Linked DNA regions of Homo sapiens: region 2 is linked to region 1. The links come from fine-mapping of genetic effects on gene expression. Tissue or cell type: whole blood. Region 1 holds a variant in brackets; the other region holds the start of a gene. All regions are shown on one strand. Distances are between the middles of the regions.

The links. PIP is the estimated chance that this variant, and not a neighbour inherited with it, causes the effect.
Region 2: it holds the start of PYGB, and the variant in region 1 is fine-mapped to the expression of PYGB in whole blood (TOPMed, PIP above 0.99).

What each region holds. Positions count from the first base shown.
Region 1 is chr20:25,715,945-25,724,050 of GRCh38, forward strand. The region is part of intron 1 of LOC107985400 (a long non-coding RNA gene); the gene reads left to right. Among named protein-coding and RNA genes, the nearest start is that of ZNF337, 23 kb to the left of the region's middle. RefSeq lists enhancers at 2,993-3,508, 3,509-4,024. The variant G/A (reference allele first, on the strand shown) is at 3,496.
Region 2 is chr20:25,244,876-25,252,981 of GRCh38, forward strand. It overlaps PYGB (glycogen phosphorylase B), which reads left to right and starts at 3,210. Exons shown (of 20, transcript NM_002862.4): 1 at 3,210-3,546. The coding sequence starts at 3,304. RefSeq lists silencers at 2,242-2,495, 2,514-2,593, 2,774-2,963, 2,974-3,163, 3,474-3,853 and an enhancer at 3,244-3,323.

The sequences.
Region 1 (8,106 bases):
CTGGATTACATTTATTGATTTGCGTATATTGAACCAACCTTGCATCCCAGGGATGAAGCCCACTTGATCATGGTGGATAAGCTTTTTAATGTGCTGCTGGGTTCGGTTTGCCAGTATTTTATTGAGGATTTTTGCATCAATGTTCATCAAGGATATTGGTCTAAAATTCTCTTTTTTGGTTGTGTCTCTGCCCGGCTTTGGTATCAGGATGATCCTGGCCTCATAAAATGAGTTAGGGAGGATTCCCTCTTTTTCTATTGATTGGAATAGTTTCAGAAGGAATGGTACCAGTTCCTCCTTGTACCTCTGGTAGAATTCAGCTGTGAATCCATCTGGTCCTGGACTCTGTTAGGTTGGTAAGCTATTGATTGTTGCCACAATTTCAGCTCCTGTTATTGGTCTATTCAGAGATTGAATTTCTTCCTGGTTTAGTCTTCGGAGGGTGTATGTGTCGAGGAATATATCCATTTCTTCTAGATTTTCTAGTTTATTTTCATAGAGGTGTTTGTAATGTTCTCTGATGGTAGTTTGTATTTCTGTGGGATCAGTGGTGATATCCCCTTTATCGTTTTTTATTGCGTCTATTTGATTCTTCTCTCTTTTCTTCTTTATTAGTCTTGCTAGTGGTCTATCAATTTTGTTGATCCTTTCGAAAAACCAGCTCCTGGATTCATTAATTTTTTGAAGGGTTGTTTGTGTCTCTATTTCCTGCAGTTCTGCTCTGATTTTAGTTATTTCTTGCCTTCTGCTAGCTTTTGAATGTGTTTGCTCTTGCTTTTCTAGTTCTTTTAATTGTGATGTTAGGGTGTCAATTTTGGATCTTTCCTGCTTTCTCTTGTGGGTATTTAGTGCTATAAATTTCCCTCTACACACTGCTTTGAATGTGTCCCAGAGATTCTGGTATGTTGTGTCTTTGTTCTCGTTGGTTTCAAAGAACATCTTTATTTCTGCCTTCATTTTGTTATGTACCCAGTAGTAATTCAGGAGCAGGTTGTTCAGTTTCCATGTAGTTGAGTGGTTTTGAGTGGGTTTCTTAATCGTGAGTTCTAGTTTGATTGCACTGTGGTCTGAGAGACAGTTTGTTATAATTTCTGTTCTTTTACATTTGCTGAGGAGAGCTTTACTTCCCAGTATGTGGTCAATTTTGGAATAGGTGTGGTGTGGTGCTGAAAGAAATGTGTATTTTGTTGATTTGGGGTGGAGAGTTCTGTAGATGTCCATTAGGTCTGCTTGGTGCAGAGCTGAGTTCAATTCCTGGGTATCCTTCTTAACTTTCTGTCTCGTTGATCTGTCTAATGTTGACAGTGGGGTGTTAAAGTCTCCCATTATTATTGTGTGGGAGTCTAAGTCTCTTTGTAGGTCACTCAGGACTTGCTTTATGAATCTGGGTGCTCCTGTATTGGGTGCATATATATTTAGGATAGTTAGCTCTTCTTGTTGATTTGATCCCTTTACCACTATGCAATGGCCTTCTTTGTCTCTTTTGTTCTTTGTTGGTTTAAAGTCTGTTTTATCAGAGACTAGGATTGCAACCCTGCCTTTTTTTGTTTTCCATTTGCTTGGTAGATCTTCCTCCATCCTTTTGTTTTGAGCCTATCTGTGTCTCTGCACGTGAGATGGGTTTCATGAATACAGCACACTGATGGGTCTTGACTCTTTATCCAATTTGCCAGTCTGTGTCTTTTATTTGGAGCATTTATTCCATTTACATTTAAAGTTAATATTGCTTTGTGTGAATTTGATCCTGTCATTATGATGTTAGCTGGTTATTTTGCTCGTTAGTTAATGCAGTTTCTTCCTAGCCTTGATGGTCTTTACAATTTGGCATGATTTTGCAGTGGCTGTTACCGGTTGTTCCTTTCCATGTTTAGTGCTTCCTTCAGGAGCTCTTTTAGGGCAGGCCTGGTGGTGACAAAATCTCTCAACATTTGCTTTTCTGTAAAGTATTTTATTTCTCCTTCACTTATGAAGCTTAGTTTGGCTGGATATGAAATTCTGGGTTGAAAATTCTTTTCTTTAAGAATGTTGAATGTTGGCCCTCACTGTCTTCTGGCTTGTTGAGTTTCTGTGAAGGGATCAGCAGTTAGTCTCATGGGCTTCCCTTTGTGGGTATCCCGACCTTTCTCTCTGGCTTCCCTTAACATTTTTTCCTTCATTTCAACTTTGGTGAACCTGACAATTATGTGTCTTGGAGTTGCTCTTCTCGAGGAGTATCTTTGTGGTATTCTCTGTATTTCCTGAATCTGAATGCTGGCTTGCCTTGCTAGATTGGGTAAGTTCTCCTGGATAATATCCTGCAGAGCGTTTTCCAACTTGGTTCCATTCTCCCCATCACTTTCAGGTACACCAGTCAGATGTAGATTTGGTCTTTTCACATAGTCCCATATTTCTTGGAGGCTTTATTCATTTCTTTTTATTGTTTTTTCTCTAAACTTCCCTTCTCGCTTCATTTCATTCATTTCATCTTCCATCACTGATACCCTTTCTTCCATTTGATTGCATCGGCTCCTGAGGCTTCTGCATTCTTCACGTAGTTCTTGAGCCTTGGCTTTCAGCATCTTCAGCTCCTTTAAGCACTTCTCTGTATTGGTTATTCTAGTTATACATTCGTCTTAATTTTTTTCAAAGTTTTTAACTTCTTTGCCTTTGGTTTGAATTTCCTCCTGTAGCTCAGAGTAGTTTTGTCATCTGAAGCTTTCTTCTCTCAACTCATCAAAGTCATTCTCCGTCCAGCTTTGTTTCATTGCTGGTGAGGAACTGCATTCCTTTGGAGGAGGAGAGGTGCTCTGCTTTTTAGAGTTTCCAGTTTTTCCAATTTTTCTGCTCTGTTTTTTCCCCATCTTTGTGGTTTTATCTGCTTTTGGTCTTTGATGATGGTGATGTACAGATGGGTTTTTGATGTGGATGTCCTTTCTGTTTGTTAGTTTTCCTTCTGACAGACAGGACCCTCAGCTGCAGGTCTGTTGGAGTTTGCTAGAAGTCCACTCCAGACCTTGTTTGCCTGGGTACCAGCAGCGGTGGCTGCAGAATAGCAGATTTTCGTGAACCGTGAATGCTGCTGTCTGATCTTTCCTCTGGAAGTTTTGTCTCAGAGGAGTACCCGGCCGTGTGAGGTGTCAGTCTGCCCCTACTGGGGGTGTCTCCCAGTTAGGCTGCTCGGGGGTCAGGGTTCAGGGACCCACTTGAGGAGTCAGTCTGCCCGTTCTCAGATCTCCAGCTGTGTGCTGGGAGAACCACTGCTCTCTTCAAAGCTGTCAGACAGGGACATTTAAGTCTGCAGAGGTTCCTGCTGTCTTTTTGTTTGTCTGTGCCCTGCCCCCAGAGGTGGAGCCTACAGAGGCAGGCAGGCCTCCTTGAGCTGTGGTGGGCTCCACCCAGTTCGAGTTTCCTGGCTGCTTTGTTTGCCTAAGCAAGCCTGGGCAATGGCAGGCGCTCCTCCCCCAGCCTCACTGTCGCCTTGCAGTTTGATCTCAGACTGCTGTGCTAGCAATCAGC[G/A]AGACTCCATGGGCATAGGACCCTCCAAGCCAGGTGTGGGATATAATCTTCTGTTGTGCCGTTTTTTAAGCCTGTCCGAAAAGTGCAGCATTAGGGTGGGAGTGACCCAATTTTCCAGATGCCATCTGTCACCCCTTTCTTTGACTAGGAAAGGGAACTCCTTGACCCTTTGCGCTTCCCAAGTGAGGCAATGCCTCGCCCTGCTTCAGCTCGTGCACGGTGCACTGCACCCATTGTCCTGTGCCCACTCTCTGGCACTCCCTAGTGAGATGAACCCGGTACCTCAGATGGAAATGCAGAAATCACCCATCTTCTGCATCGCTCACGTTGGGAGCTGTAGACCAGAGCTGTTCCTGTTCAGTCATCTTGGCTCCATCCATCCCAAAGACCCATTTTTCTTGTTTTATCTACCTTTGGTCTTTGATGCTGGTGACCAACAGATGGGGTTTTGCTGTGGATGTCCCTTTTGTTGATGTTGATGCTATTCCTTTCTGTTTGTCAGTTTTCCTTCTAAGAGTCAGGTCCCTCAGCTGCAGGTCTGTTGGAGTTTGCTGGAGGTCCACTCCAGACCCTCTTTGCCTGGATATCACTAGGAGAGGCTGCAGCACAGCAAATATTGCAGAACAGCAAATGTTGCTGCCTGATCCTTCCTCTGGAAGCTTCATCCCAGAGGGGCACCCTCCTGTATGATGTGTCAGTTGGCCCCTACTGGGAGGTGTCTCCCAGTTTGGCTACATGCGTGTCAGGGACCCACTTGAGGAGGCAGTCTATCCATTCTCAGAGCTCAAACACCATGCTGGGAGAACCACTTCTCTCTTCAGAGCTGTCAGACAGGGATATTTAAGTCTGCAGAAGTTTCTGCTGTCTTTTGTTTAGCTATTCCCCACCCCCAGAGGTGGGGTCTACAGAGGCAGCAGGCCTTGCAGAGCTGCGGTGGGCTCTGCCCCGTTCAAGCTTCCCAGGCCACTTTGTTTACCTACTCACGCCTGAGCAATGGCGGACACCTCTCCCACTGCCAGACTGCTGCCTCACAGGTCGATCTCAGACTGCTGCTGTAGCAGTGAGCAAGGCTCTGTGGGTGTGGGTCCTGCCAAGCCAGGTGCGAGATATAATCTCTGGGTGTGCCATTTGCTAAGACTGTAGGTAAAGCACAGTATTTGTGTGAGGGTGTCCGGATTTTCTAGGTTCAGTCTGACTTGGCTTCCCTTGGCTGGGAAAGGGAAATCCCCTGACCCCTTGCACTTCCCAGGTAAGGTGATGCACCACCCTGCTTTGGCTCACCCTCCATGGGCTGCATCCACTGTCCAACCAGTCCCAGTAAGATGAACCAGGTACCTCAGTTGGAAATGCAGAAATTGCCATCTTCTGCATTGATCATGCTGGGAGCTGCAGACGGGAGCTGTTCCTATTCGGCTGTCTTGGAGCAGAATCCTGGCTTATGTTTTTTTTTCAATGGGAGCCTCCAATCACCATAAAAGATTATGTACCTTACATAGTTGTACTTGTTATACTTTTTAATTTTTATTTTTCATTTCTTTAGTAGGTACAAGTGCAGATTTCTTACATGCATATATTGCATACTGTTGGGTAGACTGGGCTTTTAGTGTACCCGTCACCTTAATAGTGATCACTGTACCCAATAGGTAAATTTTCAACCATCACCTCTCTCCCACCCTCCTATCTTTTGTAGTCTCCAATGCGTATTATTTCACTCTGTATGTCCATATGTATCAATTGTTTAGCTCTCATTTACAAGTGATGGCATGCAGTATTTGACTTTCTGTTTCTGAGTTTTTCACTTAAGATAATGGGCTTCAATACCATCAGTGTTGCTGCAAAAGACATGATTTTATGGCTGAGTAGTATTTTCTATATCCAGTTCTCCGCTGATGGACATGTATGTTTATTTCTTTTTTTGCAATTGTGAATAGGTCTGTGATAAACATGAGTGCAGGTATATTTTTGATATACTGATTTCTTTTCCTTTGGGTATATACCCAGTAATGGAATTGGATCAAATGGTAGTTCTGTTATTAGTTCTTTGAGAAATCTCCTTATTGTTTTCCGTAGAGGTTGTACTTATTTACATTTCTACCAACAGTATATAAGCATTACCTTTTCTTCACATCCTCATCAACATCTGTTTTGTTTTTTTTGACTTTTTAGTAATAGCCATTCTGACTGGTATAAGATTGTATTTTACTATTTTAATTTTTATTTCTCTGATGATTAGAAATATTGAGCATTTTTCATGTTTGTTGACTGCTTGTAGGTACTCTTTTGAAAAATGTCTGTTTGTATCCTTTGCCCGCTTTTTAATGGGGTTGTTTCTTGTTGTTTTGTTGTTAGAGTTCCTTGTAGATTCTGGATGTAAGCGCTTTGTTGGATGCATAGTTTGCAAATATATTTTCCCACTTTATAGGTTGTCTGTTTACTTTATTAATTATTTCTTTTGCTGTGCAGAAACTTTTTAGTTAAATTATCTCGTCTGTTTATTTTTATTGCATTTGCTTTTGAGGACTTGGTCATTAATTCTTTGCCTAGACCAATGTCTGGAAGGGTTTTTCCTAAGTTTTCTTCTAGGATTTCTGTGGTTTCAGGTCTTACACTTTGGTCTTTGATCCATATTGAGTTTATTTTTGTATATTTTGAGAGGTATGGGTCCAGTTTTATTATCCCATATGTGTTTATCCAATTTTACTGGCACCACTTATTTATAGGGTGTCATTTCCCCAGAATATATTTTTGTTGACTTTTTAAAAGATAAGTTGGTTGTAGGTATGGGGCTTTATTTCTGAGTTGTCTATTCTGCTCCATTGATCTATGTGTCTATGTTATGCCAGTACAATGCTGTTTTGGTTTCTATAGTTTTGTAGTATAATTTGAAAACAGGTAATGTGATGCCTCCAGCTTTGTTCTTCTTCCTTAGAATTGCTTTGGCTGTTCAGGCCCTTTTTTTGGTTCCATATTAATTTTAGGATTTTTTTTTCTAATTCTGTGAAAAATAACATTGGTAATTTGATAGGGATTGTGTTGAATCTGTAGTTTGCCTTGAACAGTATGGTCATTTTAATGATATTGCATATTCTAATTTATAAGCGTGGGGGTTTTTCATTTGTTTATGTCATCTAGGATTTTTTTCATCAGTGTTTTGTAGTTCTCCTTCTAGAAGTCTTTCAGCTTCTAGGTCAAAGATATTCCTCGGTATTTTTTTGTAGCTATTGTAAATGGGATTGTTTTCTTGATTTGGCCTTTGGCTGGCTCATTATTTGTGTATATAAACACTACTGATATTTGTACATTAATTTTGTATCCTGACGCTCACTGCTTCCTTTGTCAAATTTAAGAATTTTGGGCAGCATCTTTAGGGTTCTTCAGGAATAATATTATATCATCAGCAAACAGGGGTAACTTGACTTCCTCTTTTCCAATTTGGATGCATTTTATTTCTTTCTTCTGCCTGATTGCTCTGGCAAGAAATTCCAGTACTGTGTTGAATAAGAATAGTGAAAGTCGGCATCCTTGTATTGTTCTAGTTCTTACAGGAAATGCTTTCAACTTTCCCATATTAGATATGATGTTGTTGGGTACACATGGACACAAAGATGGGAAGAGTAGACATGGGACACTCTAAATTAGGGGAGGAAGGATGGGGAACAAGGGTTGGGAGATTACTTATTGGGTACTATGTTTGCTACTTGGGCAACAGATCATTAGAAGCCCAAACCTCAGCATCAGAAAATATACCCATATAAAAAACCTGCACAGGTACCCCTGAATCTAAAATTTTAAAAAACGAGATAGAATTATGAGATTAGGTAATGCATATTTTAGCCTTAGGATTGAGGTCTTTGCAAAAAGTAGGGAAAATGTCTTCTTACTCATTTCCTTATGCACAAAACATGTCCTCAGAAATATTTCTACTAGCATCATTAAATGTATTTTCAAATTTCTCTATTTAGGGCCCTGTGCTAGTTGCTAAGGATGTAGGTAAAACAAGTGAACAAGAAAATCCTGTTTTGAAAGGTCTTCTGATTCTAGTGGGAGAAAGAAAAAGAGTTTGATATTAATCAGCTGCCCTCTTGGAATAAGCAGAAATACTACCACATTCTTATAGATGAATGATACACAGGAGGATCTGAAGGGTTTCTATTTTTTAAAAAGTATGATGTTGGCTGTGGGTTTGTTGTATATAATCTTTATTATGTTGAAGTATATTTCTTCTATGCCTAGTTTGTTGAGGATTTTTATCATGAAGTGATGCTGAGTTTTATTGGATGCCTTTTCTGCATCTGTTGAGATGATCATATGGTTTTTGTTTCTAATTCTGTTGATGTGATATATCACACTTACTGATTTCCATATGTTAAACCATCCTTCCGCCCTTGGGATAAATTACACCTGATCGTGGTGTGGTATCTTTTTGATGTGCTGTTGGATTCCATTTTTTAGTGTTTTGTTGAGGATTCCCTGCTTATCTATGTTTTAGAATAGTTTCAAAAGAATAGGTATTAATTTTTTTTGTATGTTTGGTGTAATTTGGCTGTGAATCCTCCTGATCCTGGGATTTTTTTGTTGAGAGATTTTTTATTACTGATTTCAGTCTCACTA
Region 2 (8,106 bases), 470 kb before region 1:
CAGGAGTTAAAGACCAGCCCAGAAACATGGTGAAATCCTGTCTCCACTAAAAATACAAAAATTAGCTGGGCATGGTAGTGAGTGCCTATAATCCCAGCTACATGGGAGGCTGAGGCAGGAGAATTGCTTGAACCCAGGAGGCGGAGGTTGCAGTGAGCGGAGATTGCACCACTGCACTCCAGCCTGGGTGACAGAGCAAGACTCCATCTCAAAAACATTAATAATAAATAAATAAATAAATTACCTGAAAATGGCTGAGATAATTAATACTGGGACTCATTTAGCCACTTCAGCAATATTAGCGGCCAGAGGAGGTGAGGAGACATGATGGTGAGAGGGCTCCTTCCTGCGTCAACCATGCGCATTATGAAGAGTCACATCATGAAGATTCAGTATTGGACTAAGTGCTGCAGGAGAGGGGAAGGACCATGGCAGCTCCCAGGAAGAGGAAATGACATCTGGGTAAGATAACTGTTAAAGAAAAAAAATAATCAATAGCATTTGTTAAAGCATGGTACCAGACTTTATTCACAACCATCATGATAGGTACAGGGACCACTGCAACGGGATCTTGCAGCAGGGGAGAGAGATTGGGCTCAACTCCGAAAACAGCATGGGCAAGTGGGCATTTATAGCCAAGGACTGGGGGAGGGGTCAGTGGATGGACAGTTACTAAGAGGACACTTCAGGGGTCCAGGTGATTGTGTCTAAACCACCTCATAGGATTCCTGTTGAAGGCAGGCCAGGGTGATTGGACAGCATGGGGGATGGTGGAGCATGGGGAGCCTGATCAGATGTCACCAAGGGGGATCAGACATCAGGGGCAGGGAATCCTGCTAAATTGACAAAGCAGGGATTGCTAAAACAGATGTCACAGGGAAGTGTATGATGGCCCTACAAGGCTCAGAAGCCTGACTAGAGTTTGGTCAAAGAATTTTTGTCAGGATCATGGAAAATTTAATAAAGTGTAGCTATGAAAGAAAGGACTTAAAATTTATTTAACCAGAGTAACAAAGAATTAAAAGTCAATCCAGTAAGAGAATATATAGGCCTTAAATCAGCATCCATTAGTGAAGTCTGTGGCCTCTAGTTTTTCTTACTAAAACTTACTCCACTTACAAAAGAAATATTGTGGAAAAAACAGGAAATACAAAATGTATGGAGAAAATAAGATAACCCCCCTGATAATTCTTCCATTCAGAAATAACCAGTGTTTAGGTTTGGATATACACCTGTGTTTCTAACACAGTAGTCCCTAGCCACATGTGGTTATTTAATTTAAATTTAAATTGACTAAATGAAAGTAATATTCAAATCATTACTGTCATTTCTGCATTACATCCTTATTTTTGTGTTTCATTTATCAGTATTGTGTCATCAATCACACCTTCCTAGCTAGCTATTAAAACAGTCATTCCTTTTAGCAGCACAATGGTTTATGATATTAACTTTGAGCACAGATACATTTTTCTGGGCTTGTGCAGTGGAGCAGGGCTTGGCTGGGGTGAACCTTGGCTGTTTCCCTTATTAGCTGTGTGGGCTTAGGGAAGAGTTAACTTCTCTGTGGCTCACCTTCTCCATTGTCAAGCGGGGGTAATAGCAGGCTATTTGCAGGGATCAGGAGTTAATACGTGTACACTGCAAGTAATGATCAATAAGTGTCAGCGCCTCCATTCTTTGCCAGGTGTGCACCACAGCTGGGGGATTAAACTTTACCACACCACAGCAGATAACATATTTGCATAACTTGCTTTTTGTCTTCTTAAGCTTTCCTTGAACTCAATTCCCCAGAGTGGTAGAAGTGGTCATAGGGCACTATCATTTTTATGACTTCTGAATTGCCAGATCACCCTCAGAGAGATTGCATCAGTGTTCGGAGCTTGCAGCCAAGCTCGACCCCACAGCCCTGCCATCTGTGCCCGAAGTTCGATCTTGTTGGCTCCAGAATCCCTAGGACATAGTGCAGGAGTGAATCCCGAGCTGGAGCTGGGTGGGCTGTGGGGTCATTCCAGATTGATTAACCTCCGACCTCTGAAGTCTGCAGCTGGAAGGGGCTCCAGGTAAGAAGATAACTTTGAAGCATCACACCAGGAAACCTACTGCACCTGGACTTTCATGACATTTCCTGCGGGCAATTTTTACCTCCACGAAATTCAGTAACCTTTGCAGCCCCTTCAGCCCAAGACCACCAGGAGCAAACCTGTGGTCCACAAAATCGGGTGTACTGACCCACTGCAATGAGGGAGCGCCTCCCAAGAACGAAGGGAAAGGCAGAGTTTGAAGGGGTTGAGGGAAGGCAGAGTTTAGGTGACCTTTACATGAAGCAGGGTTCCCACAGGCTGAGGCCAGCAGGACTGTGTTCCGCGGGGCCAAGTGTGGGAAGCTGTGTGCAGACGCCCCCTATCTGGAGCTGCAGCCTGGATTGGGATGACAGAGGCTAAGTCTCGGTTAGTGGCTGAGCTCCCCGGCCAGACGGGCATGTTTCCTTCTCCCTGCTGTAATCTCAAAGCGGACAGCGTCTGCCAGGTGGTTTCGGGAACAGGGTTTCTCCGAGGGCTAGGGGGCTGCGGTCCCTCCGAGGCGGGGTCGTGGTGGCATTTGGCTGTGGCTGCCTCGCGCCCTCGGGAACGGGCGTCTCCAGCTCGCTGGCAGCTGGTTTTCTCCACGTCTGTCATCGGCCTGGAGTGGCAAGCAAATAGCTGGTATTTTCAGAGCCGCCCTGCCCCGGACAGAGAAGACCGGGCCCAGCAGGCGTTGGTGGATGCCTTTCAAGCTGTAATCAGTTTCCCCGAACGTGTACCAGGTCTCGGCCACAGCCCGAGCCCAGCGCGCTCCCGCGGGGCACCTGGTGACCCGGTGCAGGGCGGGAGGGCCGGTCCCAGGAACCCGAGGGCCGGAGGGCAGGGCCCCCTTCCCGCACCGTCCCCGGGCTGGCAGGAGCGGCCACGACGGCACGCTCCGAGGCCCCGGGTCCCTTGCCCCCTCCAGTCGCTCCCACTTTCTGCCGGGCTTGCCCAACGAGGGGGCAAACACCACGCTCAGGTGGCGTGGACAGGTCGCTGCCGCCTCGGACTACACCAGAGATCTCAGCTATGAGCCTGGACGCCCGCCCCGCCCTCCCGAGGCCCCGCCCCGCCCCCCGAGGCCCCGCCCCGGCGCGGCGCGCAGGCGCGGTCCATCCCGCCCGCAGAGCCGCAGTGCCGGGCGCCAGAGCAGCGGCGCCAGAGCAGCTGCACCATCCCGGCGTTCGCGTGTGCCGCCGCTTTCCTCCTCCATCTCTTTTCCTCCGCCTCCGCCGGCGCGATGGCGAAGCCGCTGACGGACAGCGAGAAGCGGAAGCAGATCAGCGTGCGCGGCCTGGCGGGGCTAGGCGACGTGGCCGAGGTGCGGAAGAGCTTCAACCGGCACTTGCACTTCACGCTGGTCAAGGACCGCAATGTGGCCACGCCCCGCGACTACTTCTTCGCGCTGGCGCACACGGTGCGCGACCACCTCGTGGGCCGCTGGATCCGCACGCAGCAGCACTACTACGAGCGCGACCCCAAGGTGAGGCGCTGCCCCGCCCTGTGCGCCCGTGCCCGCTGAGAGGGCGCCGGTCCCGGAGCCGCGCCAGCGGGGGTCTCTGCGGGGCGGCCCGTCGGGCGTTACCTGCGCCCCTAGCCGGCCGGCGGCCAGGCACAGCCGACTGGGGAGTCGCCTGGAAGCCGCAGTCGGCGGGGCCCGGGCGTCCCCTGCGCAGGGCCGCGGCCACGGGTCCGCCCCACTGGGAGCCCGCGCCTGGCGGGGTCCGCCGTCCCCCGCAGATGATGCTGAGCCCGGGAGCCTGGCGGACGTTCCCGGTCTCTTTCTGGCCGTGCGCTTCCGCGCTGGCTGCAGAGCCGGTGCTCCCCGCCCCTGCCTCCAGCCACTCTTTGTTTTCCTGCAGCAGCCTGTGGGAGAAAATGGGACTGGAACCAGGCCTGGGCAGCCTTGTGGGTTGGAATGGGGTGAGCTCGGTAATCTGCAGGGAATTGTGAGACTTTTTTTTGTGTACGCTGCTTAGAAGAAAATCACTGAAGATGCCTGCTTCACGCAGGGAGGGGTACGAAGCTCAGAGATGGAGATGGAGCCCTCGAAGAAGGCTCTGTCTTAGAGGTTCCCACACCTCCCTTGGAGAAATTTGCTTGGGTTGAAGTTGACAGAGATCATCTTACTAATTGTTACTTTTTATATCTTGCAAAAATTTGTTTGAGTAGTGAAACAAAGTCACTGATTGTCCCCGTTACTCTTAACCATGTTTACTATGGGCCTGTGTTCTTGCTGTGTTTTTGGTATTCCTAAATATACATACACATTTTTAAAAAGTATAATGCACATACAGTTTTTTAGATTTTCTGTTTCATTCGTAAACATTTGTAACTTTTTCACTGATAAACAGCTTTGCAGGTCAATGGATAGGATGGTAGTTTTCAGTTTGATAGGTACATGGTAGTCTTGCACAGCCCCCTGTTGCCAGTTTTTTGTTGTTGTCGTTTGCTTTTAAACTCTTGACCATGGAGAATTGTCTTTCTACTACACTAACGTAGAGGGAGAACTGGTGAGGAAAAGACACACTTCCAGACCTGAAGCCACTTGGCAAAGATTTTACTTGCAGTGTACATCTAGGCAGTGAGCACTTGCTTTATGGATGGTATTTTAGAATATTTTTGTAGGGCATTAAGATATGTTTAATACGGTAATTGCTAAGAGATTGACTGCTTTTCCAAACTTATTCTGGGACATTCTTTTTTCTAAAATGGAGATGGTAAAAGGGACAGATTTGTTAGAATACCAACTGGGGCTCTTCATATTTGGTATGCAAAACATAGAAGTGGCAACGAATGGCCAAAACAGGTTATAACAAGGGCTTGGGATGACTTTGCCAGGAAAAGCAGCCAAGAAGCAGTGGCTCCCCCAGAATTCCCTGCTGTTGGGAGAGTTCTGATGCACAGCACCATTTTTTTTTTTTTTTTAATTCTGAGTCTTGCCCTGTAGCGTGAAGCTAGAGTGCAGTGGCGCGATCTCGGCTCAGTGCAACCTCCGCCTCCCGGGTTCAAGCAATTCTCCTGCCTTAGCCTCCCAAGTAGCTGGGATTACAGGCGCCTACCACCACGCCCGGCTAATTTTTTGTATCTTTAGTAGAGACGGGGTTTCACCATGTTGGCCAGGCTGGTCTCAAACTCCTGACCTCGTGATCCGCCCGCCTCGGCCTCCCAAAGTGCAGGAGTTACAGGCGTGAGCCAACGCACCCGACCCGCAACATCATTTTTATTGTCTAAGTGGCGGATGGCAAGGACATAGCTCTGCCTTCACATTCAAGGGCATTTCCTTGGAGCTGGACCAGGACTCAGCTCTACACCTTAGGGTGCCCATTGGAGTATTTATGTATAATCACATCCTGGAGAGGCCAGCGATGGGCTCAGGGATTACGGAAATGACCTTCATGAACAAGATAGTCCCTGCAACAAAACAGGTTTTTTGATCCTCCGTGAGATCTCTTTTGATTGTCTACGTGTGGTGGCTCTGGGTGGAAACCTTTCTCTTAAACCGCACAGTCTGTAAGTCGTAAAGTTGTAAACTTTTAGATCTCACAGTGTGTAAATAAGCTGTGTGCCTATTCTGAATAGGAAGGACATGGAAAATTGGGATTTAACTGCTTCTTTCGCTAATTCATGATGAAAATAAGCTTGCAATCCTTTCTTTGGAAAAGTTACATGCTTGCTGGTGATGGACCAGCAACCAGTCCCACCAGAGCCAATGAGAGGAGGTGTGCTCCCAAGAAAATAACTGCTGTGCCTCCCCCTCAGCCAGAAATGACCTCAGACATTCACCGGCACACTGCAGACTGTGGTAATGTGACACTCTAGAGCTCCTAAATAGAACGCTTTTATTGTTATTTTTGTCTTTTTTTAAATTATGCAAGTCCTGAAGGAAAAATTATTACTGGAGGAAAAATTAGAAAATATAGATAAGCCAGAAGGAAAAAAATTAACTGTAATCCTGTAACCCACTTCTATCGCCCACTTTGTGCTGTAAATATTTTGTGTTCTACATTGTTTTTTCCGTATTGGCAGAAACTTGTTTTTAATACATAAAATAACATTATACTGAACCTATTGTTTCATAACTCTTAGCACTTTATTTGTGGTACATAGCGAAAGAGTAGAAGTTGGGGTGTTCAGAGGAAGATTTGTCAAGCTTTGCCATGCTTGGCAAATCAGCACGTCAAAACATCTGGCTAACATGGAGAGCTTTGTGCTTGGCAAGAGGTGGCGGTTGGTCATGAAGACATTTAATGGATTCTCTGAAGTGGTGGCAAGGTGGCAAGGAGAGTCCAACCTGAAGCTGCAGAGCCTGGGATTGCGCTGCATGGAGAAGAAAGGGTGTGCGTGATTCCACGCTCCTTTTCATCCTGGCCTTTCCATTCGGTCTGTGCAACTGTGGGCTTGGGCGGATTTCTTTGCCATTATTGGCCTCAGTTTTCTCATCTTTAAAATGAGGGGAATCAAGCTGGTGATGTTTCCGAAGTCTGTTGCCATTCTGAAATGTTAGAGTTAAAATGTTTCTATTTCATATTGAATTGACATTCCATCTCTATCCAGAGAGAATTTGAGGATGCTTATGCTAGATACAGCACAAAAGGTTCACATTAGAAGGCCTCAGAGTGAGGGTTGGGGTGGGACAGTGAGGGTCAGGACACAAAACACAGACCAGGATCCTGGCAGTGAAAGCAGCCCATGCCCAGTTATGAGAGTCACGGGATCCCTTCTATAACATCCTGAAAGGACAGTTGCACGGTTTATTCTGTGGGCCTTTGTGAAGCTGTGTTGTCGATGTGCTGAGCCACTGACCTGCAGCACCCCTGCAGTGGATGTAACAATCAGTTTTTGAGACTCTTCCCATAAGCTCCTGGCATGACTACAACACAGATTAAGGAAAAGCAGCTCTACCTTGGGGCCCACACTGCTGTCCTAAATATTCCTAATGAGATAAACACAATGAAATACGATTAATCTTTTGGTTTGGCTGGACCCAGGAGTTAAAGAAGATGATCTAGAGAAGTGTTTTGCAGACCCTTCTGCTCTGTGATCCCCACTTCTGGGATTTGTTTTAATTAGTCAGTTGTGGTACCAGCCTCCGGAATCCTAACACTCCCAATTTTTCTGATGTATTTCCACTTTTATGTGTGAAGTTGAGCTTGCATCTCCTGGGCAGGCTTCCCTGACAGCAGATCGCTCAAAGTCATTTTCTCTGACCAGTAGCTGATGGTGGGTGCTGTTTTGTGTTGCTGACAGCTAGCCACTTGGAAGGTAGGCCTCAGCTGTCATTTTAGCAGATGGAGAAGCCTACAGTGTGTGCCTTCATTTTCTGCAGAAGACAGCCTGGCCTCTGCCCTTGCAGGCTGTGGTGGCTGGTTTTATGTGTCAACTTGGCTGTTGTGCCTAGATAGTAACGTGGATGTCCCTCTGGGGGGGTCGGGGGGTGGTGTTTCCCACACTGACTGAGCATCTTACAATTCAGTTCCGTTCTGATGCTGTCTACCTAGATGTAGCCTCGGATCCCACAGGCTAAAGGCTCAGTCCCACAAGACTTCTCCACCCCAGATGTCAGTTGCACATCAGGACCTCCCTTCTGACCTCTGACCGACAGCCTCCTCAGGTTTGATGATTTGCCAGAATGGCTCATGAAACTCAGGGAAACACTTCACTTGCGTTTACCAATTACTTACAAGGAATACAACCCAGGAACAGCCAGATAGAAGATATGCAGAGGGCAGGTCTGAGGGAGGGTGCAGGGGCTTCCATTCCCTCTGCAGGTGCCACTGTCCCAGCACCTCCAGGATTCACTGAACTGGAAGGAAGCTCTTCCATCCCCTTCAGTTGGGGATTTTATGGAGGCCGCAGTTACCTAGTGTGATTATTGGCCATTGGTGATGAGCTCAGCCTTTAGCCCCTCTCCCTTCACTGGAGGTTGGGGCTGGCGGGAGGGGTGGGCCTGAAACTTCCAACCCTCTAATTAGAGCTGGTTCCCCTGGCAGCCAGCCTCTGCCCTGAGGGGCTTGCCAAAAGTCACCTTTTGGTGACCACA